Homo sapiens: one gene and its partner. The protein of the gene in region 1 interacts with the protein of each later gene in a pairwise test. Each region holds a gene or a part of one and is shown on either strand. Other genes may lie near its edges.

Evidence for each region.
Region 2: the proteins of VSIR (region 1) and SLC35B1 interact in a two-hybrid assay, tested with the Homo sapiens proteins (one large-scale study listed by BioGRID and IntAct).

Annotation. Positions count from the first base shown.
Region 1 is NC_000010.11:71,753,021-71,756,520, forward strand, and holds part of VSIR (V-type immunoglobulin domain-containing suppressor of T-cell activation precursor), read right to left. Parts: intron 2,447-3,500; coding exon 2,339-2,446; intron 1-2,338.
Region 2 is NC_000017.11:49,705,865-49,709,464, forward strand, and holds the start of SLC35B1 (solute carrier family 35 member B1), read right to left. Parts: upstream 2,101-3,600; 5' UTR 2,081-2,100; coding exon of another isoform or gene 1,970-2,080; coding exon 1,866-1,969; intron 1,581-1,865; coding exon of another isoform or gene 1,479-1,580; intron 1,205-1,478; coding exon 1,101-1,204; intron 471-1,100; coding exon 340-470; intron 33-339; coding exon 2-32; intron 1-1.

The DNA of each region.
Region 1 (3,500 bases):
AGAAGCTGGTCATGGAAGGGAAGGCTTCCCCATACAACATCCCTGCCCCTGCTGGCAGATGCCCTGCAGGGAACAGGAGCGAGCCCAGGAGGGCCCTGCACAGCTCCGGACTCCATTTCTTTTCACATGGGTGCTGTCCAGCAAGCGATCTGCGTGTCTGTCCAGCAGATGGGGCCTCCATGAGGGGCCCATTTTGACGACTGATAAATGAAACTCTATCTGCATTTTCCAGGAGTGTAAGAACGCTATCTGCCATCAGGAGACCAAAGGCAGCCAGCGCTTTCTCCTATGGCTTGACTTACACAGTGTCAGACCTTCAGGATTTAAGTATCGAGCAAAGGTCAACTCTTGAATTTGCTAACTGGTGTCTCTTGTTTGAACATTTGCCAGGTTCTGGTCTTTAGCCATGACTTACTGGGTGGGAGTGTTTAAGGTCAGTTCCTAATTAGAGGGCTCCTGGTCCTCTCTGTCCTATCCCCTACATTGCCTAATAGGGTGGCATTCTAGGGGACATCTCTCAGGGAAACCTTACAAGGTGCAAGTCCCCGATCACTTCCCAGCCACTTCACTCACTTTCTGCTTCTCATCCAAGTTGCTGCCGCTTGCCTCAGCCTTGGGACACCCCACCCCCCAAACTGGCCACCAATTAGATGCAGTGACCCCAACTTCCCTCTTTCATGCAGCACCCCATGTCCTCCCACAGATGCTTCTCGTTTTAAGGAGATTTACTGCTGATTACGATGGGGAAACAGATGGTGGGGGAGGGGCACAACAACAGAACAAACACAGGGAAGTTACCCAAAAGTTCCTGAAATCTATTCAAACCATGGCTATTGCTTACAGCCGACTCATGGGTCAGGCTTCGTGCAGGTGCACACGGGTATTCCCTCATCTCATCCTCTGTGCCACCCTTTGGGGTGAGGGTTGTTGGTCCCATTTTAGAGCTGGGGAAACTGAGGCTCAGTCCAAAGCAGGATGGAAATCCACACCTGTTGGCCTCTCCAGCAAACTGCCGTCCTCAAGGCTCCCAGCCCTTTCCTTTTCTTTTTTTCCTGAGAGTGCCTCATTCCTGAGCAGGCTCTCTGGGCCAGCCTTCCACCAGGGAGGGCACAGCAACACCTGCTCCCCCTGCCCTGCTGCCCAGCGTTGCTCTTCTGTTCCAAGCCCTTTACCTGCCCCCACCCACCCCCAGCCATGGGTATTCCTGCAGGTAGGTTGTGGTGTGTTCTAGGAGAGGAATAGGGGAGTTCTGAAAGCAAGGGTGAGGTGGCCACAGCCCCCGAGTGACCCACTATGGGGCTTCACGTGGGGGCCCCCGGGAATGAGGGGAGGGAGGGATGACAAGTTGTTAAGGGCCGGCCACAGGAAATAAGTTGCGAGCCAAAAGCCACCTGGCACCAGAGCAATCCTTTCTCAGTTACCTCTGTAGCCAGGCAGACGGGAAGAGGCCAGGGAGGGGAGGCAAGGGTAAAAAACTCCCTAGCCCCTTCTTGGAGGACTCAGACTAACCAAGACTCAAGGGCAGGGTCAGGAACTAGGCAAGGGGCACTGTCACCTGGCCAGGGTGGGAGGTGAAAGATGTTTGTGCCCATGACTTAAAGCCCAGCCCCACCACTTATTTGCTGTGTGGTTCCTTAGGCAAGTTACTTAACCCCTCTGTGCCTCCGTTTGCCCATCAGTAAAATGGGGACAATGGTAGGACCAAATTCTTGGACTTGCAATGAGGAGTAAGTGAGAGCATTTTTATTATATGGTGGACTTCTATTCCCTGGAAAGAGCATGCGTTGAAAGCTCTGAGATTGAGTCCTAGCTCTGCCACTTACTAAGTTACGTAACATTCAGTCAGTTATGTAACCCCACTGATCTTAGCCTTCTCATCTGGAAAAAGAAAGGGTTGAGCTAAGTTGTCTGTAAGACCCCTTCCACTTCTGATATTCCAAAGATCATTTTTTGTCCCAACAATTGCTACTAATTACAAAACAAGCACGCCCATACCTTAAACAGGTCCCCCAAGGATCTCTGAGTGGCAGCAACTTGCTTTTATAAAGCAACTTGAGCTACTGCATATGATCATTCATTCAGAAGACATGTATTGAGTGCCGAGCCAGCACTGCCTGGGAGCCAAAGGGGCTGGTGGGCACTTGGCCCCCGGAAATGGCATGCCTCCTTTCTCTCGGCCATTTCGCCCAGCTCCTGGCGGGAAGTGCAGCTGCTCCCAACTCTCAAATGAAAAGGAATTGTGCCTGCATCGTGCCTTTGCGAATCCCAGGGGCTGAACTGGGGGCTGGAGCAGGTCACTCGCACCGTCCACCCACCCCAGGCAGGGAGGAATACTCACGGCGGTTGGAGGCTGCCTGCCTTTGCTTGTAGACCAGGAGCAGGATGAGGGGGAGGCAGAGGATTCCTACGATGCAGGCACCCGTAGCCAGGGCTGCAGCCGTGATGTCTGAAAGGGCAGAGAGGTAGCCAAGGTGAAGCCCCATTCCCATTGCTCCTCCTGAGCATAAACTGAGGCTCAGAGAGGGAAGGCCAGGAAGCAGGAGACCCGCCTTTCCCCAGAGTCCCACAGCTAGACCCCCAGCAACCTACAGAGGCATGGAAGATAAGGCGGTTCTCCTTTCAAAGAGAGCCCTGTGCCTGCCGCCCTATGCCCCTGGAGCACTCAGAAACAAGACCTGTCACCTACAGCTCAGGCAGCTCCAGGCAAGAGAGGGAACAGAGTCCTCATCCCAGCCCACAAGGTACAGCTGGAACACCCTTGGCTACAGGTTGTTCTCTGAAAAGGGAGAGCAGGGCCTTCGCAGACCCCATGCCACAGAGCTCAAGGTCAAAAGAAGCCTAAGTGATGAAAGTTTTGAAAATAGACAGTGGTGACGGTTGCACATTGTGAATGTAATTAATGCCACCAAACTGTAGGCTTAAAATGGTTGAAATGGCAAATTTTACATTATATATGTTTTATCATAATAGATAAAAAGCCCCAACTCATCCCAGAGACTCCTTAGCTCTGGGATGGGGCCTCTAGAACCCCTTGATCTCACCACACAAGTCACAGGAGAAACACCCGGGGTGAGAACTAGAAAAACGTGAATCCTTGTACAATGTTTTTCAATTTTAAACTTATTAAACTACCAAAAAAAGTACAAGTTTAAAAAATATTCGAATCTCCTCCTCCCCTTGTACCAAGACCCCCTCTGAAGAGATCATCCCTGTGTGCCGGTTTTTGTGTTATGGTCCTAGTTATATTCCCTGCAAATACAGCAGACGCAGCATCATATGACAATGCTTTTCCCACTGAGCACAGCTTGGACATCTCTCTGTCTCCCCTGCCTCATTCTGCTTAGAGTTTTATCACATGGCTCCCACTAAATTTATTGAAGCAGTCCCCTGTTGGTAGACATGTTGTTTCCATTTTCAGCATAACTAATAATGTAGCAATGAACTTGTGCACGCAGCCTGGCTCACTCAGCAAGGAAATCTGTAGTAAATTCCTAGCGGTC
Region 2 (3,600 bases), on another chromosome or scaffold:
CCTGGGATTGGCTTGCAGGATTTACCAAGGACCTGAAATTAAATCCAGCAAATAATTTCTGAGCATCTGTGATGTGTCAGGTACTATGCTAGGTACCGCACTGATTAAGATGAGTAAGCACAGGGCCTGCACCAGAGACCTCAGCCTCAGAAAGCAGCCCTATCATGGCCCAACCCACCACCACTAAACGTAAGTTCTATGGTTCTATACACTCCCAATGTCTTACAGGACCGTTATCTTTTTTTTTTTTTTTTTTTTAACTCACAGACCTGAGGGAAGAACTCTTAGTCCTTTTCAAATGATATCTGAGCCAACCATCATCCCACCCTGAGGTTTCACCTGAGTTGGGTAGTTGACAAACTGTAGTGCTGAATTGCTGGAGACCATGGCACCCAGATAGGAGATAGAACAGGCAGCATAGAGCCAGCTCCGGGTACGATCCACCCTGGCAGTGTCAAAAAACTGGATCACTGGGAGAAGACAAAAAAAAAAAAAAAAAAAGAAAAGAAAAGAAAAAAAAAAAAAAACAAGAGAAACCTGGTGGGGCTAGGATGGACCACTAAGCAAAGCTGAAGCCACATGAAAGGAACTTGTCTGTCAAACAAGACACAAGCTATTTCTGTCCTGTTACACTGGGAAATCTCTGAAAATTATTCATCTTTCCAATTCTACCTAAGCCCAACAAAAGACCACATGCAGGGTGGAGGTGGGGGCCTCATTCAGTTCAAGGGACCAGTCAGCTCTGCTGCTAGTCCCCAGGGAACAAAGAGAGAATGCTCAAAGCATGCTTGAAGCTGACACACAAAAGAAACTCAAAGGGAAAGAAAAAAATGTTTTAAGTATTTTCAATGGGGATTTGGAATATAGAAGACCCATTCTCTGAACATTTCTAACTCAGAAGCTGATAAAAATTGGGGAAATAATATTTTACTCCACTTCAAAGTCATTAGTTTTACAGACTTCACAGAGAGGCTGTGTAAGTACAAAATGGGGTGGAGATCATGAGTTAGCCTTTAAGGTTGAATCAATGCTTAATGCCCAGCATACTGAGGGAACTTGGGGTGGTGGGGTACCCAACAAATTACTATCTGGGTACTCACAGATCTTGGCAAACACAGCATTGATCACACATTGAATGAAGACCAAAGTTAAGGCAAAGGTGAACGTCTCCTGCTTGGCTCCTTCCCCATACTTTCCTCTTGTTCTAGAAATGAAATGCATGAGAAAAGAGGGAGAAATTAGTGTATTTCACTCACTGTCATCTAATATATCCCGAGCCACTGAAAACTTTAAAATTATCTTGCCTCTCTGGATGTAGGCAGAGTTTGTTAAGGACCACTAGGCTCATTTGCAAAAGGGGCTGATTTTACTGGATCTAGAAACTAGACATCCCAGCCTACTGATTCCAAAGCCTAAGAAAAGAATACCCGAAAAAGACGGAGAGGAAACATGCAGAACGAGATAGTGAAATCAGGTACCCCAGGCAGGAGGAGACGGTATTTCGGCTATGGCACCAAGGCCGAGGACGAATAGGTTGTTTGCAAGCATCTGGGAGTACCAAAAGGGGGCCGACTCGGGTCCTGTTTGAGGAATAGAAGTCTCAGCCTGTAAAACGCAGGCCCTTAGAACCAAGCGGGGAAAAACAGCTAAGAAAAGAAAATAACCAAGTCCGAAGAATCCAGAAAATAATCCTGGAGTTCTGGAATTCTGGGTAGGCTCAGCCATAGCTGCAAAAGTAGTAGGGTGCTAAGAGGGCGACAGCCGGGCAGGAGGACAAGAGGAAAGCCCGGGTCCAGAGGCAGAAGGCCCGGGATCCCTGTCACAGGCTGGGGAGAGACTGTCGGCCCGCCCCCGGGGTCGCTCACATCTTTTCCTGCAGGATCCCATAGTAAAAATAGCAGACAAAGACACCCAGGAAGCAGAGCGGCAGGCGCAGCCGGTCGGGCACCAGGGAGCTGCTAGAGGCCATGAGACGCCCAGAGGAGCCGACTGGAGACCCGCTCACAACCGGCACCGGCAGCAGCGGCGGCGGAGGCGACAGCTCCAGCCGGACATCGCCGACCGGCGGCAGGGGCCTCATAGGAGCTGCATGCGACCGCTGTCCAGCAGGGCCCAGCAGTCACTACCAGAACTGCCGGCTCATGGCTGCCAAGGGGGAAACTCCTCAGAACCCAGCAACCACTTCCTAGGAAAGAAAACCCGCCCTGGGACCTTGGCTCCATCCCTGAGGGCCAGGGGAACCGGCAGCCTCGAGACTGATCCCTCGCCCTGGAGATTTTTCCAATCAGGCAACTCTGAGGACAACTGCGACCCAGAGCACCACAGGGTGTCCTAGAGCCACCTGGGCGTAGAATAATGACGTATAAGGATGTGGAGGCCACCAATTGGCTGCGCTGTGCGAAGACGGACAGGTAGGCGGGGCGGGAGGAGGTGTGGTCGGCAGAGCAAATCCAATAGTCTTTTCCGCGGCGGGCGGCCAGGCTTCTGCTGGGTCCTAATGCCAAATTCCTTACTGGAGCTTCAGCGCCGTCTAGCTGCTGCCCAGCGTCAGCGACTTTACCTGCTCATTACCTAGGCACATCACTAGGCTTCCAAGGGGGAGAGCGGCACAGTAAGTCTCGGCTTGGTCACTTAAAGGCGGGGTAACCTACCCGTGTCACCCAAGTTCTGAGCCAGAGTTTTCCAGGTCTGGAAACTAGGGATAATTAGTAATAGCCACCTTGTCGCCTCTTGGCTGTTGTGAGGATCAAATAAGAGTGTTTTGTAAACTGTAAAGTATGCTGTGCAAGCTTAAGGTATTATTAGTCATCACTGTTTGTCAGCCCTGATCTTATTTCCTCACATCGAGGGGTGGAAATGGAAGCTTACTGAAGTCAGTTTTCTTCCAAGTCTTAACAACTCACCAACAATGGCGCAAACCCTTCGGCCGCGCTCCTGAATATTTCCCATTAATGAGCTCCTCGTTGGATCCCTTCCTCATGCAAGTGTTGGGTCTTCACTTGCTGGCACGAATTGCCAGGGCAAGACTGACCTCAGGTCTTCCTACTACTACCTCCAACCCCCTACTTAATTGGCCCAAATCTCCGGCCACCTGGTGGACTCTGGGCTGCTCTCTAGGTCGAGGCTCCTCTTCTAGCAGCCTGCTCTTTTGGCACAGCCTCAGGCAAAGGAAGGAAATACTGGGCAGCACCACACCCATCGCTCCGGGCCTGACTCAATAAGGCTTTGCGGGGGAGCCAGAAGTCTTTTAGAGGGAGGAGTAAGGGATAGAAGATAGGGTGTCCCCAGCCCACTGTCTCCTCGATATTAGTGGCATGGGAAAGCCCCATACATTTGCTCTCTTGCTCACTAGCTTACTCTACTGGCTCAGCCCGCGATGCCAGGGCACCAAATAGCTGGGAAGAGAGACCTGCCAGCTCTACTTCTTTACCAGCTGGGACCTCAAACAATTCGCTTGTCCTGAGTCGAGTTTCCTCACGTGAAATTAATGGGAATATAATAACAAGCAGGAGAGCGCTGTGGTTAGAAACATGGGCACTGGATTCAAATGATCAGGTTTCCAATCCTAGCTCTCCCACTTCATATCTGTGTCTTTTGGGG